Linked DNA regions of Homo sapiens: all the other regions are linked to region 3. The links come from fine-mapping of genetic effects on gene expression. A gene starts in region 3. Each other region holds a variant in brackets. All regions are shown on one strand. Distances are between the middles of the regions.

Evidence for each region.
Region 1: its variant is fine-mapped to the expression of CATSPER2 in esophagus muscle (GTEx, PIP above 0.99). The same link has a PIP of 0.9 or more in ovary and thyroid.
Region 2: its variant is fine-mapped to the expression of CATSPER2 in uterus (GTEx, PIP above 0.99).

Annotation. Positions count from the first base shown.
Region 1 is chr15:43,899,395-43,907,774 of GRCh38, forward strand. FRMD5 (FERM domain containing 5) reads right to left here. Exons shown (of 14, transcript NM_032892.5): 6 at 6,434-6,557; 7 at 2,781-2,868. Among named protein-coding and RNA genes, the nearest start is that of WDR76, 77 kb to the left of the region's middle. The variant C/G (reference allele first, on the strand shown) is at 4,688.
Region 2 is chr15:42,703,413-42,711,792 of GRCh38, forward strand. All of the region lies in intron 26 of STARD9 (StAR related lipid transfer domain containing 9), which reads left to right. LOC124903605 (small nucleolar RNA U13) reads right to left here and starts at 5,380; the gene lies at 5,280-5,380. The variant T/C (reference allele first, on the strand shown) is at 4,384.
Region 3 is chr15:43,645,458-43,653,781 of GRCh38, forward strand. It overlaps CATSPER2 (cation channel sperm associated 2), which reads right to left and starts at 3,387. Exons shown (of 13, transcript NM_172095.4): 1 at 3,172-3,387; 2 at 2,460-2,606; 3 at 1,837-2,010; 4 at 1,593-1,661. The coding sequence starts at 2,604. It also overlaps the pseudogene PPIP5K1P1-CATSPER2 and the pseudogene PDIA3P2.

The sequences.
Region 1 (8,380 bases), 250 kb after region 3:
AAAAGAAGTCTCCTGGGGGGTTTCTGTTCTTCCATAGGGTACATAACAACGGGTAGTGACTTGAGTTCAAATTCTTGCTCTACCGCTGAGGGCTTGTGAATTTTGGCCTCCTGGAATGCCAGTCTTCTTATCTATAAAACAGGGAGAATAACATCTACCTCCCAGGGCTGGTGTGAGGATTAAATGAGAACATAATGTGAAAAGACTCCACTGAGGCCGCCATGGGAGGCATACCACAAACATCTCTTCTTCCCTCCCTCCCTCTTTCCTTCCAGGAGTTGATGCTATGGGATTGAGATGGCATGACATAAGTGACTGGGTGGCAACAGTGCCTGGTATGAATGCTGGTTCCTCCCTGCAGCCTCTTCAGCCTCTCTGCGTCCAATGATGGACAAACTCACCCAAGACGAGGCTGAGACAGGAGCCTCACAGTCCTGGGGTGCATGTGTATTTGGGTTGGAAACCAGGCTGGCTGCCACTACAGCTTCCAGAATCCCGTGGGCAACGGTGGAGAATCCCTTTCCCCGCTCTAGTCAGTGTAGTGCTCGGGCTCACTGTCTGCCCATCTCTGTGTCTTTTCAACTCTGCTCAGGGACCCGTCTCTGAAGAGGTGGGTGCTATGTGTGGCCTCAAGGGGACTGGGCAGGTTTGGGGTCAAACGCAGAGGTAACCTGGCCCTTTCTGATGAACATATCTTCAGGCAGCCGTCTTTAAGGTCCTAGAGTGACTCAGCAGTTCAGGGAGCAGTTATTGAACACAGACTGTGTACTTTCAAGTGAGGCTCAGAGAAGCTCCCAAAGGCCCCAGTAAACAGGGGATGGGAACCGGAGCCCAGGGCCAGCTTATCCAAAGCTCTCTTCACTCCTGTGTGGGTGCCCTGCTAACAGTATTGGAGCAATTTATGGAGGGGTTTAAACTGCATCTGTTACACAGAGGGCATTGTTTGGAAGTTTTGCTAATGTGTAAATATCCAAATGTCAATTCTCTGGTATAACAGGCATGAATGTGTTTTCTGACAGTGTGGCCCCAAGAACACAGGGGTTACTTTGCAGCAGGCTGTGCTAGTGGATAGGGAACTGTGGGGTAGGGAAGATGACCAGGGTTTCTGAATATCAGGATGTTCTCAAGGTTCATAACTCCTAGGCAAGAATAAATCACCATCTTCTCACCAAGGGACCAAAGGACACTGCTTTGTCCCTATGTCACTGTGCTCATTCATTCCTGGTTTTTTTTTTTTTTTTGAGACAGAGTCTCGCTCTGTCACCCAGGCTGGAGTGCAATGGCATGATCTCAGCTCACTGCAACCTCCACTTCCCGAGTTCATGCGATTCTCCTGCCTCAGCCTCTTGAGTAGCTGGGATTACAGTCATGTGTCACCATGTCTGGCTAGCTTTTTATATTTTTAGTAGAGACAGGGTTTCATCATGTTGTCCAGGATGGTCTTGAACTCCTGACCTTGTGATCCGCCCACCTTGGCCTCCCAAAGTGCTGGGATAACAGGTGTGAGCCACTGCGCCCGGCATTCCTATTTGTTATGCGCTATACACTGTGTCTTCAAAAATTCATATGTTGACATTGTAACCCTCAGTACCTCAGAATGTGACCTTCTTTGAAGACAGGATCTTTACAGAGGTAATTAAGTTAAACTGAGGTCATTAGGATGGGCCCTAATCCAATATGACTGGTGTCTTTGGAGAAATCTGGACAGAGACATGTACAGAGGGAAGAAAGCGTGAAGACACAGGCAGATGACAGCCATCCACAGGCCAAGGAGAGGGGCCTGGAAAGGATCCTTCTCTCAAAGCCCACAGGAAGAACCAACCCTGCTGACACCTTATCTCAGATCTCCAGCCTCCAGAACTGTGAGACAATAGACTTCTGTTCTTTAAGCCACCCAGTCTGTGATACTTGTTACAGAAACCCTAGGAACTAATATACTATTCTTTTAATTTTTGCTTGAAGCTTAGTATCCCCTCTCCAGTTAGGAAGAAAAGGTTGATGTCTTCCTGTTCCTGGCTGATACTGCTTCCTTCAGATCAGCTTGCCAGTTGGTTTTACTGGTGATACTGGACCCTCTCCAGTAATGGAAAGAGAGAGGCAGAAATGTGGAGAAACTGAGGTAGAGACCAGGAGTGTCAAAGCAACAGGGACAGGAGGTAACGTGAAGGGCCACAGCCACAGAGAGAGACTGGAAGGGGCCATGGGTCTGCACAGGCCTCGGCAGTGACTGGCTGCCCCCGCTCATCTCCAAAATGCCAGATGTGCATGAGTAATTACAGAGGTTTTCTCTGGGCAGCCTCCCCGGCTGGTTCTCGTCTATCCCTCACAGGCGCATAATGGCATTAAATGTGACTCCACTGCAGTTCCGTGCAGTGACTTATGCCACTGCAGTCAATAAAACCCACTCTCGGAAAGAAACTAGATTACAGGTCAGGAAAGGGTGGGCAGGCACTGAGCCGCCTCTGATCGTTCTCTGTGGGGGGCCTTCCATATCCCTCCTCTCTTCATTTCTACCAAATTACCCATTGCGGGGCCCTAGCTTTGGATTTGTTATTTAGATTGACTTTGCCTCGGTTCCTCTGACATTGATGTGGCACCACAAAATTATGTAGCATGTGATCCAGAGGAGTTTTCAAAGCAGGCATTTTCTCTGATATCTCACTGAAAGTGCCAGCCATGTAAACGTTGAAGGGGGCCTCTGAGCGCAGGCATGGGGGCTCTTGCTCCTGATGCCTTCTAGAGGAGGAAAGGTCATGCAGTCTCCAACCAGGGGGTCTTACCTTACATGGGTGAGGATCCACTCCATATGTTTCCAATGTCTGTGCTTTTCTTAAGAAGTTCAGCTCTGATGTTGCTGGTGTTTGACCACTGGAATAAAGAAGATGAGATGATTTCAAGGTGTCTTGTTCCCACAGGTTCCCCTGAGGTAAACTCTCTATGAAGATGTGCTTAGGATGAGCCACACATCTCAGTTTGTCTAGGGTGTGCTCCCTGCTTGGTTCTAGGACCAACTTCGAGACTCCTGCTAGAGTCTCTGACTGTCTTCAAACGTTTTCAGAGTGAGGCAGGCTACATAATGAATTACTTGGGCTGAGTGTAAACAATGGGGAGTGGTGGGGACTGTGGCAGCACCATCTTAACTCTGAGATTCCCATCACTGAGAATGCAGGGCCCACTACTTGGGAGGCTGAGGTGGGAGGTGGGAGGATTGCTTGAGCCCAGGAGTGCGAGGTTTCAGTGAGCTATGGTCACAGCCCTACACTCCACCCTGAGTGACAGAATGAGACCCTGTCTCAAAAAAAAAAAAAAAAGAATGCAAGGCTTAGCTAGATATTGTGATTTTAAAAGAAAAGTCAGAGATACTGATTTTTATGTGGTATTTCACAATTTAAAATACTATGGGGTAAAACAAAATACATCTGTAGGCTGGAAGCAGGTCATAGGCTTCTCATATGTGATCTGTTCTAGACTGAAATATAAAGAAGGGGCTCATATAGCTTGCTGGTGCCACCCAGCCCTCTTCCTTTGCCAAAAGGAAACACAGGAAATTAGGGTGAGGAGAGGCAGGAGACAGTGCTGAGCTCCCATGCTCCACAACAGCTGTCTGTCCATAGGGTGATGACCAGGAAAATGAAAGATGCTGAAAAAGGCAGAGATCAGCTCCGGCTCCAGGCCATCTGAAGGGGCCTTTGGCATCACCCCTTCCCACTGCCTCTTTAGCAGGTGTGTTGATGGGCTCATTGCAGACCCAGTGGCAGAATAACCATCAGGCTCTTGCCTGGGTCCAGAGCCCTGCAAAGCAGATATACTTCTACAGATACAGGTTTGGCTTCAGTGAGGAGGGGTGGGCAGCTTGTGAAGTCAACATCTCTGATGGCTGGTGGACAGGACTGCACGTTGCTCGTTTCTAAGCTTATCATTTGCCTCAGGTGATATGGCCAGGCAGGAAGATAAGCTGACCCCAGGCCAGATTCCCCCTAGTGTCCCTCTGGAGAGGCATTAGTCAGGCAGCACCTTTATGTGCCAGCCTCTGTGCTACTTGCTGGAAAATATATGAAGAAACACAGTATACAGTCTGTGCTCTCAAAAGCCCATATCACAGTTGCATAAAGGAAGCATGGATGTATTTTTACATTATGAAGACGAGGCAGGACCTATGGAAAAAGTACCTGTGGAAGGGGGTATTGCTGTGAATAAAGACTTCTGCATCCACTAGTGTACCTGAGGCACAGGGAAGGTAAGTTAGGAAAATATCTGTGTGGCAAGCAAAGGGCTGGCTAGAGCACAGCTTCCCTTTCCAGGGAGTGTCCTCTGTCTGCAGGGGGAGTGGGCCCTGTGGGCTCCATTTACCCTTGGAGTTGGCCCAAACCTCCAGGGTCCTCAAAGCGGGCATCATTTCCTGGGGGATCCCCTGCTTTGAACTAGGTTTCTGGAGGGCTGTCCCTACTATTCTGATGTCTCCTAAAGCCCTCCAGGCAGTTCCAGCACATCCCTGATCTCTTTGAAGGAACCATGAGGCCCCTGCCCCCAACACCACAGGCCCGTGTTTATTCTGATTTTTACCACAAGGGGTCGCTATTCCCTAACAGAGTGACTTGAGGAGCCATGGGGTCCTGCACCTGGGAAGGCACACCGAGGGAGAGGGGCGGGAAGCATCTAAGATTCCATTTGTTCGGTGTCGCCATTC[C/G]GCTGGGAGGGTCAGGAACCCCTCCTGCCACAAGGCATGGGCAGAGGGGTCTGTTTACAAAGGCTAAGGAGGCTTTGGGTTATATTTGTTGGTAAAATCATTGAGTGAAGGGTTTCTGGGGGGCCTGTGGTCGGGGAAGGAACAAGTTGAAGCTTAGTATTAGCATTAGAAATATCCAGCTCTGCTCCCTGTTGCCAGGCATAGTCTTTCCTCGGAACAGTAGATACACAAACCTTTTAAAATATTTTTTTAAAGCTGTAATGTATTATAATGACAACATAACTTTTTTTTATTTTTAATTTTTTGAGACAGGGTCTCGCTCTGTGGCCCAGGCTGGCATGGAGTGGTGCAATTCCAGCTCACTGCAACCTCCACCTCCCAGGTTCAAGTAATTCTCATGCCTCAGACTCCTGAGTAGCTGGGATACAAGCGTGTGCCACCACATCTGGCTTTTTTATTTATTTACTTTCATTTTTAGTAGAGACAGGGTTTTCGCCATGTTGCCCAGGCTGGTCTCGAACTTCTGACCTCAGGTGATCTGCCCTCCTCCGCCTCCCAAAGTGCTGGGATTACAGGTGTGAGCCACTGCGCTTGGCCAACACTGCATTCTATATCCTTTTTCCTCATAGTTTGTCAGTTTGGGGAATCTGTGCCGTAACCAAATGGAGCCCAAACACCCTATTGTTGCTTTTTAAAATCAGGCTTTGTAGAAAATCCTACTTCATGTGGGTGAAAAGCTGCATTAATGCTGTTTTATGGTATTCAGCATATTCTGGGCAAAGTAAGAGAAGCTGAGAAAGATGAGGCTCCAAACTTGAAGCCACGTCTCCTCCACTTCTCTCTGTGCAAAGTCGGGGACTCCAGGTAGGGTATGGGGGGGGCCTGAGTCAGGCGGGGCTGAGGACATACTTCTGAACCAGAGTGCTCCCAAGGCACCCTCAGCATTTATGAATCAGCCCTGCGCACTCCATCCTCCACTGAGAAGCCACCTGTCACACTGTCACAGACTAAGAGCAGAAGCCTGCCCTTTTTCACATCCTCACTCAACCTCTCCTTTTTTTTTTTTTTTTTTTGAGATGGAGTCTCGCTCTGTCACCCAGGCTAGAGTGCAATGGCGCAACCTCAGCTCACTGCAACCTCTGCCTCCTGGGTTCAAGCGATTCTCCCGCCTCAGCCTCCGGAGTAGTTGGGATTACAGGCACCTGCCATCATGCCTGGCTAATTTTTGTATTTTTAGTAGAGATGGGTTTTCACCATGTTGGCCAGGCTGGTCTTGAACTCCTGGCCTCACGTGATCCACCTGCCTCGACCTCCCAAAGTGCTGGGATTACAGCCGTAAGCCACCGCGCCTGGCCTTTTTCTTTCATCTTTTTTATCTTATGCAATTTCCTTTATCTTTTCCTTTTCCCCAGTTCATGCTTTCCTCTGTATCTTCATTAAATATCATAGTGAGGCAGATGCCTTTCAAAGGCCAATCCCTCTCTGTTTCCCCTATAACACAACTTCTCCCTTGTCTTTAAGCTTCAGGCTAAATCGCTTTTCTTGGAGAGGGAGCCTACAGGGCTTGTGGCTGTGACTTGTGCTGTCAGTGTATCACTGACAATGGTACATCCGCGGTCAGGAAGGCTGGGGAGCATCACTCTGTGTCAGTAAACAGTCTGCGAGAACAGAGGACACGGCGTGGAGCCTGCGTGCTCAGGCTGTGGAGAAGCCACAATGTTCTGGGCCTGATTAAGTGCCACGTACCTCAGTTCCGTCTTGTGAATCTCAGCAATTTTCCTTTCCAGCTTCTCTGAATGTTTAGGGAAAAACTGGAACTTGGAGCTGTAGCCTTCAGGGTGTTTCCCTGAGTCATAATCCCCAATCTCCGCTTTCAAAAGGAAGGTGGAAGAAAACAATTGTGGAGACAGGTAAATCATCATTGACAAAGCAACAAGAGATTAGCACACAGAGCAAAAGCCAAAATACACATCAGATTTATAAGAAACAGTGGATTCTGAGCACGGCTGTGGGCTGGGCAGAGGGCAGGCCCTTCAGGAGCATGTCCACCTTTGTTTTTCCAGGTGCACACACTGGGTTGGCATTCAAGTCTATGCAGAGAGACAGAGAGCTGACCTTGTGTTCTGAGGTCACCACAAGTAAATTTACAATGAAAGAGCAGAGGCCTGCACTATGGTCCTCATCCATTCCGCCATGAGAAGATGGTCTGGGAGCAATGGTCTTTGTGGCAGCACAGGAAGTGGTGAGCTTGATCAGAAAGGGAGATCCTCTTGGGCCTCAGCCAGATCATAAGTCTAAATCCTAGTTTGAGGATGTTAGCAGGGACACAGTAAATTGATGAATGAGCTGCGATCCAAATTCAGAACTCAACCCTCAGTTCAAATCAAATCAAATTAATAAATTTGAATAAATATTCATTAAGGGCTGACCAGGTGCCAGGTTCCTTCGAGAGGCCTACAGAGTGGGAAGCCTGGCTGTAACTAGAAAGTATCGTTGAGTTCAGAAGCATCAAGTTCTTTTTTTTTGTTTGTTTGTTTTTAGACGGAGTCTCACTCTGTAGCCCAGGCTGGAGTGCAGTGGTGCGATCTTGGCTCACTGCAAGCTCCGACTCCTGGGTTCACGCCATTCTCCTGCCTCAGCCTCCCGCGTAGCTGGGACTACAGGCGCCTGCCACCTCGCCCGGCTGATTTTTTGTATTTTTAGTAGAGACGGGGTTTCACCGTGTTAGCCAGGATGGTCTCGATCTCCTGACCTCGTGATCCGCCCGCCTTGGCCTCCCAAAGTGCTGGGATTACAGGCGTGAGCCACCGCACCCGGCCGAGAAGCATCAAGTTCTAAGGCTCATTTCTCAAGTCCCTGCCAGGTGTGAGCCTTTCTCCTCCAGCTATTCAGAGAGAGTTTATCTCTAAACCTGGTAAGATCTCAGGGCAGTAAACTTTAGGAGGGCAGAAGACCCACGGTACTTTCCACACCCAGGTCAGAATCCAGCTTTTTCCACGTGAAGCTCTCCACAGGGAGGATGGTGGGTAGGACAAAAGAAAGAGGAGGGGCCAGCTACTCTGTGGGTGCCCTTTTTCCTTCCCAGGTGAGAGCCACAACCACTTCAGATGTGAAGTCTTGAGGGAGGAGAAATATTAAGAGGAAAAGGTGCCCTCCTCCCATGGCTGAATATTGTACTTGGGACTTGTACTTTTTCACTACAAACCTACTCACTGTATCTTCCAAATTACTTGGGAACTTCTACTGTTAGCAAGAGACCCAAGTCTGAAGTCTGGGGTGACCTTGAGCCTTGCAGTCTTTTTTCTTTTGAGACAGGGTCTCACTGTCATGCACGCTGGAGTGCAGTGGCATGATCATAGCTCACTGTAGCCTCGACCTCCTGGACTGAAGTGATCCGCCCACCTCAGCCTATAGCTGAGACTACAGGTGCACACCCCAGGCCTAGCTTTTTTTTTTTTTTTTGAGACAGAGTCTGGCTCTGTCACCAGGCTGGAGTGCAGTAGCGCGATCTCAGCTCACTGCAGACTCCGCCTCCCAGGTTGAAGCTTCCCAAGTAGCTGGGACTACAGGCATGTGCCACCACGCCCAGCTAATTTTTGTATTTTTAGGAGAGACGGGGTTTCACCATGTTGGCCAGGATGGCTTCGATCTCTTGACCTCATGATCTGCCTGTCTCGGCCTCCCAAAGTTCTG
Region 2 (8,380 bases), 940 kb before region 3:
GAGTGCAGTGGCACAATCCCTGCCCACTGCAGCCTCCGCCTCCAGGGTTCAAGCAATTCTCCTGCCTCAGCCTCCCAAGTAGCTGAGATTATAGGCGCCAGCCACCATGCCTGGCTGATTTTTTTTTTTTTTTTGTATTTTTAGTAGAGACAGGGTTTCACCATGTTGGTCACGCTGGTCTTGAACTCCTGACCTCATGATCCACCCACCTCGGCCTCCCAAAATACTAGGATTACAGGCGTGGGCCACCGCGCCTGGCCACATTTGTTCTTTTGACACTATCACACAGATTCTTTAAGCTTTCTTTTGTTCTTTTTCATTCTTTTTTTCTTTCCTCCTCTGTATTTTCAAATATCCTGTCTTTGAGCTCACAGATTTATTCTTCTGCTTTATAATTTCTGCTGTCAAGACAGCATTTTAATGCATTTTTGTTTGTTCAGTGTATTTCACCTCCAGGATTTCTGTTTGATTTTTAAAAGATTATTATTATTATTTACTTATTTATTTATTTTGAGATGGAGTTTCACTCTTGTTGCCCAGGCTGGAGTGCAGTGGCGTGATCTTGGCTCACGGCAACCTCCGCCTCCCGGGTTCAAGCGATTCTCCTGCCTCAGCCTCCCGAGTAGCTGGGATTACAGGCACCTGACACAGCGCCCGGCTAATTTTTTTTGTATTTTTAGTAGAGATGGGGTTTTACCATGTTGGTCAGGCTGGTCTCGAACTCCTGACCTCAGGTGATCTGCCTGCCTCGGCCTCCCAAAGTGCTGGGATTACAGGCATGAGCTACCACGCCTGGCCAAGATTATTTTAATCTCTTTGTAAAGTTTCTCTCATAGATTTCTGAATTATTTCTCTGTGTTTTCTTGAAGTTTATTGGGCTACCTCAAAACAACTATTTTGAATTCCCTGTCTTAGATTATACTTCTCAATCTCTTCAGGATGGATCACTGGCACCTTATTTAGTTGGTTTGGTGAGGTCATAGTTCCCTTAATGTTCTTGATGCTTTCCAATGTGTGTCAATATCTGGGCATTGAAGAAATTGATATATATTCCAATTTTTGCAATCTGGCCTTGTTTGTACCTGTCTTTCAGAGAGCCTTCCAGGAATTCAAAGGAGCCTGACTGTTGAGTTCCCTAAGCCTGTGGTCACTGTAGCCATCTTAGCGCTAGAGGGCACTGTAAGCCTATGTAGCTGGGACTCTGTTACAGACTCCAATGTCCCTGGCCCCGATGGACCTGAGTAAGACCCAGGGAGAGTTCCCCACCTCGTGTGGTAATGCTGGCCAGGGCCCTGAACCAGGTGCTGGTTTTGTTGTTGTGGGCTTGGTACTGGGTTCCAAGGAAAAGTTTCATGCATAATTCGGTCTCCTTCCCTAAAGTAGATGGTGTCTTTCTCTGTACCATGTTGCCTACAGTTGGAGGGAAAGGTGATGTGGGCAGTCCTGTGGCTGCCACAGCTGATGCTATGCAGGGCTACACCTGAAGCCTATGGCCTCTTGGACCAGGGTGGAAATGGGTCATGCCCAAGGCCCAGGCTGCTACCATGCTGAAATTTATTTGGGGCCCAGTGATGTGAGAATCCCATTCATCCTGATGGGGTGGGGAATTCCTTTCTGGTGCTTAGTGTGGGTCCACAATCTTTGTCCGTGGGCACAGGCCTGGAATTAGGCTGTGGGGTTTTTTCTGGTTCTGTGTATTACTGTGGCAGACTTAGTACTGGGCTCTAAGGCAAAGTCCCATGTCCACTAACCTCTCCTTCTGCCATGTGGGCGGTGTCTCTCATCACTACCTAGGGTTGGGGAAGGGTTGGTACAGATAATATGAGACTGTCCTTCCTATTATCTTTAATGCATCTTCTTCTCCTTGTAAAATCTAGTACTTTTATCTATCAACTGGTTTTCCTAGCTCTAGCGAAGATATTTTCTTTTGTGGATTGTTGTTCAAATTGATGTTTCTGTGGGGAACTATCACTGACGGGTCCTATTCTGCCATCTTGTTGTGCCTCTGTGTTACTGATCTGTTGTTTGTTTATTTTTTTGAGATGGAGTCTTGCTCTGTCACTCAGACTGGAGTGCTGTGGCGCCATCTTGACTCACTGCAACCTCCGCCTCCCAGGTTCAAGCGATTCTTCCTGGCTCAGCACTCCGAGTACCTGGGACTACAGGCATGCATCACCCTCCATGCCTGGCTAATTTTTCTTGTATTTTTAATAGAGATGGGGTTTTCAGTGTTGGCTAGGCTGGTCTCAAACTCTTGACCTCAGGTGATTTGCCCACCTCAGCTGAACAAAGTGCTGGGATTACAGGCATGAGCTACTGCACCCAGCCTGTTGTTTGTTTGTTTATTTTTTATTTTTTGAGATGGAGTCTCACTCTCTCACTCGGGCTGGAGTGCAGGGGCGTGATCTCAGCTTACTGCAACCTCCACCTCCTGGGTTCAAGCGATTCTCTTGTCTCAGCCTGCTGAGTAGCTGGGATTACAGGCGCCTGCCCCCACGCCTGGCTAATTTTTGTGTTTTTAGTAGAGATGGGGTTTCACCATGTTGGCCAGGCTTTTCTCAAACTCCTAACCTCGAGTGATCTGCCTACCTCAGCCTCCCAAAGTGCTGGGATTACAGGCGTGAGCCACCGCACCCGTCCTGTTGTTTATTTTTTATATGAAATTTAGGATCACCTTGTCTAGTTCAATTGCAAGAACTTGTTACTATTTTTAATAGGATCATGTGGATTGACTTAGGGAGAAACCACGTCTTATGCTATAGAACTTTCTAACCAAAAATGTACTAGGTTCAAGCTTTCTTTTTATGTTTTTAAAGTTTTCTTCATATGTCTCTCACATTTCTTGTCAGATTTATTTCTAAGTATTTTAAGTTTTTTGTTACTCTTGTAAATAGGTTTTTTCGTTCCTTTATATCTTCTGATTATTTTGTGTGTATTAAAGCTATAGATTTCTGTGAATTAATTTTGCATCTATTTTTTTGGTTGATTCTCTAGACCTGCACTACTAATTTAGTAGCTGCTAATACATGTACCTATCTTAATTTTTTTTTTTTTTTGAGACAGTGTCTTGCTCTGTTGCCCAGGCTGGAGTGCAGTGGCATGATCTCGGCTCACTGCAACCTTCGCCTCAATCTTTAAGCGATTCTCCTGCCTCAGCCTCCCGAAGAGCTGGGATTACAGGCGCCTGCCACCATGCCTGGCTAATTTTTGTATTTTTAGTAGAGATTGGGTTTCACCATGCTGGCCAGGCTCGTCTCGAACCCCTGACCTCAGGTGATCCACCCATCTCGGCCTCCCAAAATGCTGAGATTACAGGCGTGAGCCACCACACCTGGCTTTTTTATAGCTTTTGAGCTGAGATAGATATATTTTTGCAATACTAAGGAAATATCCAACTATTCCTACTTTATAGCATATTCTTATCCAGAATGGGTATTTCAGAGTCTTTGGAGATGATTTCATTCATTCATCCATCCATCTATCTATTTTGGGGCTAATATTGAACTATTCTTGCATTCCTGGAATAAATCCTATAATATATATTTATGATTCTGATATACTATTCTTTTAATGTGTTGGAGTCCAGTTATATTTTAGAATTTTGCATCCATATTTGAATTTTTCTGTGGTTTTTGCTTTCACAATATATTCCTTAGGTTTTGTTATTACTTTATACTCCTTTAATAGGAAAGAAAGGTGGTAGTTTTCTTTTTCAAGGTTTATGAATAGTTAAAAAAGTAATAAAAACTTTATACTTATTAAGTTGGCAAAATTTAGGAAGCCAGATGATGCCAGATTTTGGCAGGACTTTGAGGATATTGGAACCATTACAGGTTCCTATGACTCAGCAATGTTTGCATAGGTTATGAGAGAACATGTAAGGAATTGTTTATTAAGGCATTATTTGAAGTGGCAATGAGTTGGAGGACATTCGCAAATCCATCACTGAGAAGAGTGGATAGGTAAAATGTGGTAGTTGCACACATGAAATATTAATACTATGCAAGACTCGAAATCAGCAGATTAAACACCTAGGCAGAATACTGAGTGAAAAACTTTTTTTTTTTTTTTTTTTGAGACAGAGTCTTGCTGTGTCGCCAAGGCTGGAGTGCAGTGGCACGATCTCGGCTCACTCCAGCCTCCGACTCCTGGGCTCAAGAAATTCTCCTGCCTCAGCCTCCCCAGTAGCTGGGACTACAGGTGCCTGCCACCATGCCCAGCTTATTTTTTTGTATTTTTAGTGGAGACGGACTTTTACTATGTTGACCAGGCTGGTCTTGAACTCCTGACCTCATGATCCGCCCATAAGATGAGATATATTACTATTTGTGAATTAAACAACATATACAGTATATAAATACAACATACACAACAATCACTTTT[T/C]GCAAGAACACATACAAACAAAAAGATACACTCTAAGCACATCAGAATGATTTGGATGGGAGTGTGAAATGGGGATGAAAAGTAAAAAAATTTGAGAGCCAGACACGGTGGCTCACATCTGTAATCTCAGCACTTTGGGAGGCTGAGGCAGGAGGATTGCTTGAGCCCAGGAGTTTGAGTCCAGACAGGGCAACATAGAAAAAAAAAAAAAAGCCAGGGTGGTGCTGCACACCTGTAGTCCTAGCTACTCAGGAGGCTGTGGTGGGAGGATTGCTTGAGCCTGGGAAGTCGAGGCTGTGGTGAGCTGTGACCATGCTGCTGCACTCCAGCCTGGGTGACACAGCAAGACCCTGTTTCAAAAAAAAAAAATTTCTTTTGAATCATCTTTTAAAGTTTGATATAATAATCCTTTTAAATTGACAAGGCTTGGTGTTTCAGTAGGGGATTAGTTATTTGAAAAACTTCTTCAATGGAAGATGGTCTGTTAAGATCAGGGGTTAGCAAACTATGGCCCTTTGGCCAGATCTGGCCTGCTTCCTGTTTTTGTAAATAAAGTTTTACCGGAATACAGTCATGCCCATTCATGTACATGTCTTCTATGGTTGTGTTCCCACTACAGTGGCAGAGAGTTGAGTAGCTGCAGCTACTCAAATGGCCCACAAAGCCTTAAATATTCAGTATCTAGCTCCCCACAGAAAAAGTTTTGCCAGCCTTTGGTTTAGATATTTCATCTCTCCTGGAGCCCCTTTTGATTCTAACTTATTCATTTCTGTGTATGTTGTTATCAGTTTCTTTTTCCTATTGTGATAGTTTCTCAGTCTTTTCTTGCTTCGTGGTTAGTAATTTTTTGGAATGTATTTATCTGCTGTTTCTTGCTTTTTTTCTTTTTTTTTTCATGTAAGACAGGTAATGTGCTGACGTAACAAGGTTTGAGAGAGGCACTTCTGAGACATGTATGTGAAAACCCGATCGTCATGCTTACGAACTACAAAAGGATCGTGTCTGTGGTTTTCTTATGGTTGGATTGAAGTTATGCGTTTTTGGCAAAAAAAATACCATAGAAGTGATTTGCCCTTCTGAAGGTTGACAGATTAGGCAAAGAAAAATACAGGATGCTAGTTAAATTCAAATTTTAGACAACAAATAGTTTTATAGTATAAGTATGTCTCATGCAATACCTTATTCTCGGTGCATTGTATCAGAGGTTACCGGATACCGACATGTCCTGTTTCTGGTGATGTGAACTTTGATGTTAAGGTGGTGGTTGGGGGTCTCTCCACTGAATGTTGCTATATTGTCCTTTATGATTAATGAACATGGCTGAATGTGGTGGCTGACGCCTGTAATCCCAGTGCTTTGGAAAGCTGAGGCAGGAGGATCACTTGAGTCCAGTATTTTGAGATCAGCCTAGGCAACATAGTGATACGCCATCTCTACACACACACACACAAAAGCTATGTTGGTGGTGCATGCCTGTGGTCCCAGCTACTTGGGAGGCTGAGGTGGGAGGATCGCTTGAGCCTGGAGGGGAATGGAGGCTGCAGTGAGCCATGATTACATCATTGGCCTTGGACAGAGGGAGACCCTGTCTCAAAAAATCTTGGAGACTAGCTGGGCAAGGTGGCTCACGCCTGTAATCCCAGCACTTTGGGAGGCAGAGGCGGGCGGATCACGAGGTCAGGAGTTCAGGAACAGCCTGGTCAGCATGGTGAAACCCCGTCTCCACTAAAAATACAAAAATTAGCCAGGCATGGTGGCACACGCCTGTAGACCCAGCTACACAGAAGGCTGAGACAGGAGAATAGTTTGAACCCGGGAGGCGGGGTTTGCATTGAGCTGAGATGGCGCCACTGCACTCCAGCCTGGGTGACAGAGCAAGACTCCATGCCCCACAGCAGCCCCCCAAAAAAATATTGGAGATGATGGAAAATCCTGTTTTTCCTCAAACTTTCATCCACTGATTTTAGTGTCTACTGGTGTATCTTACCTGTAAAAATTATTACTGTGATATTTTAGGGAATTTTGTATTTCCCTCATTTATTCTACATTTATTAATTGGAACTTTTCTCTAAGAAAGTGCAGTCCCTTCTTCCGCCACTTAATTTATTCAACTATTTAATTTTTTTCAGTTTGGAATCATATTCTTTGGGGCGTAATTCAATACAGTACTGTCATTATTAATTTCATTGTTCAACTTGTTCCAGCTTTAATTATTTGGAGTTCTTTCAGCTTGGGTCTTGTGTCCTTTTGACATGCCCTGTCTTTTTTTTTTTTTTTTTTTTGAGACAGGGTCTTGCCGTGTTGCCCAGGCTAGAGTGCAGTGACACAATCATGGCTCACTGCAGCCTCGACCTCCCTGGGCGCCGGTGATCCTCCCACCTCAGCCTCCTGAGTACCTGGAGTACAGGTGTGCACCACCATGCCCGGGTACTTTTGTATTTTTGTTTTCTAGAGATGGGGTTTTACCATGTTGCCCAGGCTGGTGTTGAACTCCTGGGCTCAAGGGATCTGCCCGCCTGAGCCTCCCAAAGTGTTGGAATACGGACGTGAGCCACCGTGCCTGGCCCTTGAGCACTTCTTTAATTGATTTTTTTATTGTTATAATCCATTGGCTTTAGTATATTCATAGAGTTGTGTATCCATCACCAATTTTAGGACATTTTCATTACCCCCCTAGTTATTCCCTAAATTCACCATTCCCCAGCCCTTGGCAACCACGAATCTACTTTCTGTCCCCATGGATTTGCCTATTCTGGACATTTCATATAAATGGAATTACACAATATATGATCCTTTTTGATGGCTTCTTTCTCCTAGCGGAATGTTTTCAGGATTGTGTTAGTTTCTTAGAATTGCTGTAACAAATTACCACTCACAGAGTGGCTTCAAACCACAGACATTTATGCTCTCATAGTTCTGTAGGCTAGAAGTCCAAAATGTTGGTGTTAGCAGCACCATACTCCCTCAGAAAGCTCCTGGGAGAAGGATCTGCTCCAAGCCTCTTTCCAGGCTTCTGATGGGTTACCAGCAATCCTTGGCATTCACTCCCATTTCTATCTCTGTCTTCACATGACATTCTTGCTCTCACTTGTGCGCTCTCTCTCTCTCTCTCTCTCTCTGTGTGTGTGTGTCTGTCTCCCTGTCTGTTTGTCCCCGTGTTTTCACATAGCCTTCTTTTTTTTTTTTAATTTAACTTTTTTTTAAGAGACAGGGTCTCTGTCACCTGGACTGGACTGCTGTGGTGCAATCACAGCTCATTCTTACCTGCAACACCTGACCTCAAGTGATCCTCCCGCCTCAGCCTCTCAAAGTGCTGAAATTACCATCGTAAGCTACCACATAACTTTTTTTTTTTTTTTTTGGAGACAGAGTCTTGCTCTGTTACCCAGGCTGGAGTGCAGTGGCACGATCTCGGCTCACTGCAACCTCTGCCTCCTGGGTTCAAGCAATTCTCCTGCCTCAGCCTCCCAGGTAGCTGGGATTACAGGCATCCGCCACCACGCCCCGCTAATTTTTTGTATTTTTAGTAGAGACGGGGTTTCACCATGTTGGCCAGGCTGGTCTCCAACTCCTGACCTCAGGTGATCCACTCGCTTCAGCCTCCCAAAGTGCTGGGATTACAGGCGTGAGCCACTGCACCCAGCTCCACATAGCCTTCTTATAAGGACATTAGTCATTGGATTTAGGGACCACTCTAATCCAGTACTATCTTATATTAACTTGGTTACATCTGCAGGGACCTTATTTTCAAATTAGGTCAAATTCACAGATACTGGGAAAATACTTCAACATATTTTCAGTGGAGACAGTGATTTAACCCACAACAAGGGGTCCTTCATGTTGTAAAATATATGAGAGCTTCATTCGTTTTTATGGCCGAGTAATACTCCATTATATGAATAAACCACATTTTATTTATCCATTCTTCAGTTGATGGACATTTAGGTTGTTTTGTGCTTTTTGCCTACTAATGAATATTGCTGCTATGAACATCCCT
Region 3 (8,324 bases):
CAGCCAAGAGCTTCATAACTACTCCCTTCTCTTAAAAATTCCTCCTAGGCTGGACGTGGTAACTCACGCCTGTAATCCCAGCACTTTGGGAGGCTAAGGCATGAGGATCTTTTGAGCCCAGGAGTTCAAGACCAGCCTGGGCAACATAGTGAGACCCTGTCTCTACAAAAATAAAATCAACATAATTAGCCTGGTGTAGTGGGCATGCACCTGTAGTCCAAGCTACTCAGGAGGCCGAGGTGGGAGGATCAACTGAGCCCTGGAGGTCGAGGCTGCAACAAGCCATGATCACACCACTGCACTCCAGCCTAAGCAACAAAGTGAGACTCTGTCTCTAAAACATAAAGTGGGAGACTTCCCCACAACAGTGAGAATGAAACAAGTTCTACTGTCCTTTCATCATTTCTGAGCAGTTTGAGATTATCAACAAATGAGCTCACTGATTTTGCAGACATACTTATGTTTTGAATGTATTTCATATAATTTATTATTGGTTTCAGAATCATTTCCTTTTTAAGTAATTTTTTTGGCTCAGCTAATATCTTAGTTGTACCTACCTTTCCATACTTTGTGAGCTTTCTTATTTATACTTAATCTTTCTAAATATACTTGTAAAAATGTAAATGTTAGATCGTTCACTGATAGGCACCAATATCTTTAACAGAAAAGGTTAATTCAAACAAATGTCAGGCTAAACTGACAACAGAAATAAAACTGGTCTTCCCAAGTTCAGTTCCTTGTGGATTTGTTATATTGCTACATATTACACCTAGTTTTATGTGTCTAGATGCTCTGTATCTAGTATACTCTTGAGAGCCTCCAAATATTAATATTTCTTTTTTTTTTGAGATGGGGTGCAGTGGCGTGATTTCAGCTCACTGCAACCTCGGCTTCCCACGATCAAGCGTCCTCCTGCCTCAGCCTACTGAGTAGCTGGGATTACAGGTGCCCACCACCACGCCCAGCTAATTTTTTCTATTTTTAGTACAGATGGGGTTTCAACATGTTGGCTAGGCTGGTCTTGAATTCCTGACCTCAAGTGATTCAACCACCTCGGCCTCCCAAAGTGCTGAGATTACAGGTGTGAGCTACCGTGCCCAGCGAATATTTCTAGATTTTAGCAGTTGCATAAATTCTACTCCAGGAGGCTTAATATAATTGTCCTTAATATAAATGTCACATTTCAAATGACATTCAAAAATGTAAAATGATCAATTTAGAAAAAAAAATTACTCCTACCCACTTCCTCTTTTTCTTTTTCTTTTTTTTTTTTTTGAGACAGAGTTGTACTCTGTCGCCCAGGCTGAAATGCAGTGGCACAATCTCGGCTCACTGAAACCTACGCCTCCTGGGTTTAAGCGATTCTCCTGCCTCAGCCTCCCAAGTAGCTGGGACTACAAGCGCGTGCTACCAAGCCCGGCTAATTTTTTGTATTTTTTAGTAGAGACAGGGTTTCACCATGTTGCCCAGGCTGGTCTCCAACTCCTGAGCTCCGGCAATCCACACGCCCCGGCCTCCCAAAGTGCTAGGATTACACGTGTGAGCCGGCGTGCCCGGCCTCACTTCCTCTTTCATACAAGGTCAGTTCTCACCTATTTCAACCATCAATATGATCGTATTCAAAAAGACCAGGAAGATGATGAAGTTTTTGAAGAGAGGACCTGTTGTCTCTTAAGGAAATGTACAGAGTGGAGTTCTTTCTGATTTATGCAGCTGAAATAATAAGAGCAATAACATAAGCAGTGAAAATGAGACAGTGGAGTATGGGGAGCAAAAAATAAGTCATTAGGCAGATGATCAACAGCCAGGATAAAAATGAGTGACATGAAAGGATACACTCAAGGACCCATCCGGCCCACAAAGAAAGAGGTGGCCTCTGACTGCAGCGCACATGAAGCCTGCTCAACAGCCTCTGGGCATGTGAAATCTGTTCTATACGCTGAGGCTTTATAGAGAAACGCACTAGCTGGTGTTGATCTCCCAATACAAGTTTCTTCTGGCGGGAAGGATCTACAACAAAAATTAAAAAGGGATAGTGGATAAATACAAACAAAATAGACCAGGTAGGGTTGGGGGCAGGGATACTGGTCAGGTAATGGGTTCCCCTAATGCCTTACTGCTAGTCCTTCTCTTCTCACAGCAACTAAGAATTCTGTTTGGAGTGAGAGCAAATGTATTGCTTATGACCAACACTGTCCATGCCCACAAAAGCAGCAGGCTCACTCTCAAAGTTTTAAGAGTCTTTGACAGAAACTCTTCCCAATCATCCATGGCTAGTGGCTATCCTAGGCCTAAAAGTGAAAGACGTGGATTCTATCTCTTCAGTTTTATTTACAAGCCCTTGATTTATCAAGTTTGGTAAACCAGCAACTAAACCTCCCCAGAATTTTCCACTCTTAAATGTAGAGGATGTGGATAGGAGTCTTAAATTTAAATTAGTGAAGAAATAGGCTGCTGACCAAGTAACTCCCTGATAGTGTGCCGCGGCACAGCTTGGCTCAAGCCTTGCAAATGCTCAATGAGAGAGAAAGTATCGATGAGACGTGAACGAATGGCATCAGCTCGGGGAAGCTGCATCTGCTCTTCTTGTTGGTAAGCGGCCATGTCTGCTAAGAAAATGTAAGCATCAAGTGTCATTTCATTCTTGGAGCTGCACCAAGGATTACAGGTTTTCTGTCCCCTCCTCCCCACCCTCTTTACCCTTAAGATTCCTTAATGTACCCACATCTACGAACTAGGAGCAGTTGGGAAGAACAAACATTCTACTAGGACTCAGGGTGTTTTGAAACAAAAGGGGCTAAGTGGTAAAGACATTGCACAGTCGACCAAGCGGCCAGGCATCTTCACTTTGTGATGGCATTTCTAATTAAAACTCATTAAAAACAAAACAAAACAAACAAAAACACCGCAAGAAAAAGGAGCAGCCACAAGGGCAGGGGCCCGGGGCTGGACAAAGAATCTGGGTCCCACCTGTGCCTGAGACAATCGGGCAATGAGGTGGAGTTGGGGGAGGTCTTGGCCTGCTCACGCAAGAGAAACCAAGTGCAGAGAAATTGGACAAAATGCCAAAGCCTGACATTTTGAAAATGGGTCCCGTCCCAAGTGTGTCCACTCCAACACTCCTTCGGGGGCTAGCTCCTTCTCTCCTCCATTCTCGCTTCTGGGCCTCACCTCAGCCCAGGTTCTCTTTGCCCACTCAGTCCTTATTTCACGCTTCCGCCTCCAGCTCAGGTGCCCCGAGCCTGGCTACCCCTATGCAAGACGAGCTCAGGGCCGGCTCCCAGCCTCACTGCGCCCCATTCCCCGCCCCGCTCGACCCCCAGGTTTCGGCTCACCCCGGGACCCGGCCCTAGCCCCTACCCACAGCCCAGGACCATGCGGAGCAACGCTCGCCCAGCCACTCGCCGCCTAGGCCCCGCCCCGCCCCGCTCTCCGGCCACTCAGCGGTAACCAGCTGGTCCCGCCCGCCGGACGAAGGCGACGCGCAGCCAATCAGCGGCTGCCACACAGCGGCCCGAGCCGGGTTTGGGGGTTGGGACCTCCGGCTGCAGGTCCCCTGGGCCAGACGCGCCAGCGCAGGCAGCCGGTTTGTGGTCGCGCGCCCGACCTCCGCAGTCCCAGCCGAGCCGCGACCCTTCCGGCCGTCCCCACCCCACCTCGCCGCCATGCGCCTCCGCCGCCTAGCGCTGTTCCCGGGTGTGGCGCTGCTTCTTGCCGCGGCCCGCCTCGCCGCTGCCTCCGAACTCACGGACGACAACTTCGAGAGTCGCATCTCCTACACGGGATCTGCGGGCCTCATGCTCGTCGGGTTTTTCGCCCCCTGATGACGCCACTCTGCCAAGGCGGGGGAAGAAGGGCCGGGCTGGGCCGGGGCCGGGGGCGAGGGCGCGGGGAACTGTTGGGCCTACGCAGCGCCGGCGCCCTTCATTCCTGTGGGCCCCTGCTGTGGCGGGCACATTTCTCATTCCCGGGAGCTGGAGGTGCCTCGCCGAGAGCGGTGGAGTCGGTGCTGATCGGCCCAAGGAAAACCCGAAGGCTGCGCTCACGCAGGGCCTCATCCTTATCTCGGTGCTCTTGTGGCACTTCCTATTTGCAGAGGGTTTTGCCACCCCTTCCCCCAGTTCAATATGTAGCTATATTGTTTCTGCATGAGTCAGTATTAATGTTACTCCAGTCTACAGACTAGACATCCCAAAGCCTTGTAGTGGAAGCGGACGTTTCACCAAATGCAGAAGTCCTGGATCCCTAGGGTATTTCCTTTCATCTTACCTCACGCCGCACAGCCATTGGTTTCTAGCCAAGGTCACTGAGTGGCTGCAGAATGGTCCTAAGTGCTTTCTTGAGGCAGGCAATTTGTCCGTCACATGGTGTACAGTTTCTCCCTTCAGCTGATCACTTACATCTCAGTACCGGCAGATACCTCTGTCCAAACGAAAAGAGTACCTGAACAAGAATAATTCCATCATAATCTGTCCATATTGTCCATTTTAATTAGGATTTCTTTAAAATGTCAATACTCCGAATAGGAACAGCTCCAGTCGACAGCTCCCAGCATGAGTGACGCAGAAGACGGGTGATTTCTGCATTTCCATCTGAGGTACCCGGTTCATCTCAATAGGGAGTGCCAGACAGTGGGCGCAGGTCAGTGGGTGCGCGCACTGTGCACGAGCCGAAGCAGGGCGAGGCATTGCCTCACTCGGGAAGCGCAAGGGGTCAGGGAGTTCCCTTTCCTAGTCAAAGAAAGTGGTGACAGACAGCACCTGGAAAATCGGGTCACTCCCACCCGAAAACTTCGCTTTTCCGACGGGCTTAAAAAACAGCGCACCAGGAGATTATATCCCGCACCTGGCTCGGAGGGTCCTACACCCACGGAGTCTCGCTGATTGCTAGCACAGCAGTCTGAGATCAAACTGCAAGGCGGCAGCGAGGCTGGGGGAGGGGTGCCTGCCATTGCCCAGGCTTGCTTAGGTAAACAAAGCAGCCGGGAAGCTCGAACTGGGTGGAGCCCACCACAGCTCAAGGAGGCCTGCCTGCCTCTGTAGGCTCCACCTCTGGGGGCAGGGCACAGACAAACAAAAAGACAGCAGTAACCTCTGCAGACTTAAATGTCCCTGTCTGACAGCTTTGAAGAGAGCAGTGGTTCTCCTAGCACGCAGCTGGAGATCTGAGAACGGCCAGACTGCCTCCTCAAGTGGGTCCCTGACCCCTGACCCCCAAGCAGCCTAACTGGGAGGCAACCCCCAGCAGGGGCAGACTGACACCTCACACGGCCAGGTACTCCAACAGACCTGCAGCTGAGGGTCCTGTCTGTTAGAAGGAAAACTAACAAACAGAAAGGACGTCCACACCAAAAACCCATCTGTACATCACCATCATCGAAAACCAAAAGTAGATAGAACCACAAAGATGGGGAAAAAACAGAGCAGAAAAACTGCAAACTCTAAAAAGCAGAGCACCTCTCCTCCTCCAAAGGAACACAGTTCCTCACCAGCAACGGAACAAAGCTGGACGGAGAATGACTTTGACGAGCTGAGAGAAGAAGGCTTCAGACGATCAAATTACTCTGAGCTACGGGAGGACATTCAAACCAAAGGCAAAGAAGTTGAAAACTTTGAAAAAAATTTAGAAGAATGTATAACTACAATAACCAATACAGAGAAGTGCTTAAAGGAGCTGATGGAGCTGAAAGCCAAGGCTCAAGAACTACGTGAAGAATGCAGAAGCCTCAGGAGCCGATGCAATCAACTGGAAGAAAGGGTATCAGCGATGGAAGATGAAATGAATGAAATGAAGCGAGAAGGGAAGTTTAGAGAAAAAAGAATAAAAAGAAATGAGCAAAGCCTCCAAGAAATATGGGACTATGTGAAAAGACCAAATCTACGTCTGACTGGTGTACCTGAAAGTGATGGGGAGAATGGAACCAAGTTGGAAAACACTCTACAGGATATTATCCAGGAGAACTTCCCCAATCTAGCAAGGCAGGCCAACATTCAGATTCAGGAAATACAGAGAATGCCACAAAGATACTCCTCGAGAAGAGCAACACCAAGACACATAATTGTCAGATTCACCAAAGTTGAAATGAAGGAAAAAATGTTAAGGGCAGCCAGAGAGAAAGGTGGGTTACCCTGAAAGGGAAGCCCATCAGGCTAACAGCAGATCTCTCGGCATAAACTCTACAAGCCAGAAGAGAGTGGGGGCCAATATTCAACATTCTTAAAGAAAAGAATTTTCAACCCAGAATTTCATATCCAGCCAAATTAAGCTTCATAAGTGAAGGAGAAATAAAATACTTTACAGACAAGCAAATGCTGAGAGATTTTGTCACCACCAGGCCTGCCCTAAAAGAGCTCCTGAAGGAAGCACTAAACATGGACAGGAACAAACGGTACCAGCCGCTGCAAAATCATGCCAAAATGTAAAGACCATCGAGACTAGGAAGAAACTGCATCAACTAATGAGCAAAATAACCAGCTAACATCATAATGACAGGATCAAATTCACACATAACAATATTAACTTTAAATGTAAATGGACTAAATGCTCCAATTAAAAGACACAGACTGGCAAATTGGATAAAGAGTCAAGACCCATCAGTGTGCTGTATTCAGGAAACCCATCTCACGTGCAGAGACACACATAGGCTCAAAATAAAAGGATGGAGGAAGATCTACCAAGCAAATGGAAAACAAAAAAAGGCAGGGGTTGCAATCCTAGTCTCTGATAAAACAGACTTTAAACCAACAAAGATCAAAAGAGACGAAGGCCATTACTTAATGATCAATTAAGTAATTAAGGCCTTGTTGATCAATTCAACAAGAAGAGCTAACTATCCTAAATATATATGCACCCAATACAGGAGCACCCAGATTCATAAAGCAAGTCCTGAGTGACCTACAAAGAGACTTAGACTCCCACACATTAATAATGGGAGACTTTAACACCCCACTGTCAACATTAGACAGATCAACGAGACAGAAAGTCAACAAGAATACCCAGGAATTGAACTCAGCTCTCCACCAAGCGGACCTAATAGACATCTACAGAACTCTCCACCCCAAATCAACAGAATATACGTTTTTTTCAGCACCACACCACACCTATTCCAAAATTGGCCACATAGTTGGAAGTAAAGCTCTCCTCAGCAAATGTAAAAGAACAGAAATTATAACAAACTATCTCTCAGACCACAGTGCAATCAAACTAGAACTCAGGATTAAGAATCTCACTCAAAACCGCTCAACTACATGGAAACTGAACAACCTGCTCCTGAATGACTACTGGGTACATAACGAAATGAAGGCAGAAATAAAGATGTTCTTTGAAACCAACGAGAACAAAGACACAACATACCAGAATCTCTGGGACACATTCAAAGCAGTGTGTAGAGGGAAATTTATAGCACTAAATGCCCACAAGAGAAAGCAGGAAAGATCCAAAATTGACACCCTAACATCACAATTAAAAGAACTAGAAAAGCAAAAGCAAACACATTCAAAAGCTAGCAGAAGGCAAGAAATAACTAAAATCAGAGCAGAACTGAAGGAAATAGAGACACAAAAAACCCTTCAAAAAATTAACGAATCCAGGAGCTGGTTTTTTGAAAGGATCAACAAAATTGATAGACCGCTAGCAAGACTAATAAAGAAAAAAAGAGAGAAGAATCAAATAGATGCAATAAAAAATGATAAAAGGGATATCACCACCAATCCCACAGAAATACAAACTACCATCAGAGAATACTACAAACACGTCTACGCAAATAAACCAGAAAATCTAGAAGAAATGGATAAATTCCTCGACACATACACTCTCCCAAGACTAAACCAGGAAGAAGTTGAATCTCTGAATAGACCAATAACAGGAGCTGAAATTGTGGCAATAATCAATAGCTTACCAACGAAAAAGAGTCCAGGACCAGATGGATTCACAGCCAAATTCTACCAGAGGTACAAGGAGGAACTGGTACCATTCCTTCTGAAACTATTCCAATCAATAGAAAAAGAGGGAATCCTTCCTAACTCATTTTATGAGGCCAGCATCATCCTGATACCAAAGCCGGGCAGAAACACAACCAAAAAAGAGAATTTTAGACCAATATCCTTGATGAACATTGATGCAAAAATCCTCAATAAAATACTGGCAAACCGAATCCAGCAGCACATCAAAAAGCTTATCCACCATGATCAAGTGGGCTTCATCCCTGGGATGCAAGGCTGGTTCAATATACGCAAATCAATAAATGTAATCCAGCATATAAACAGAACCAAAGACAAAAACCACATGATTATCTCAATAGATGCAGAAAAGGCCTTTGATAAAAT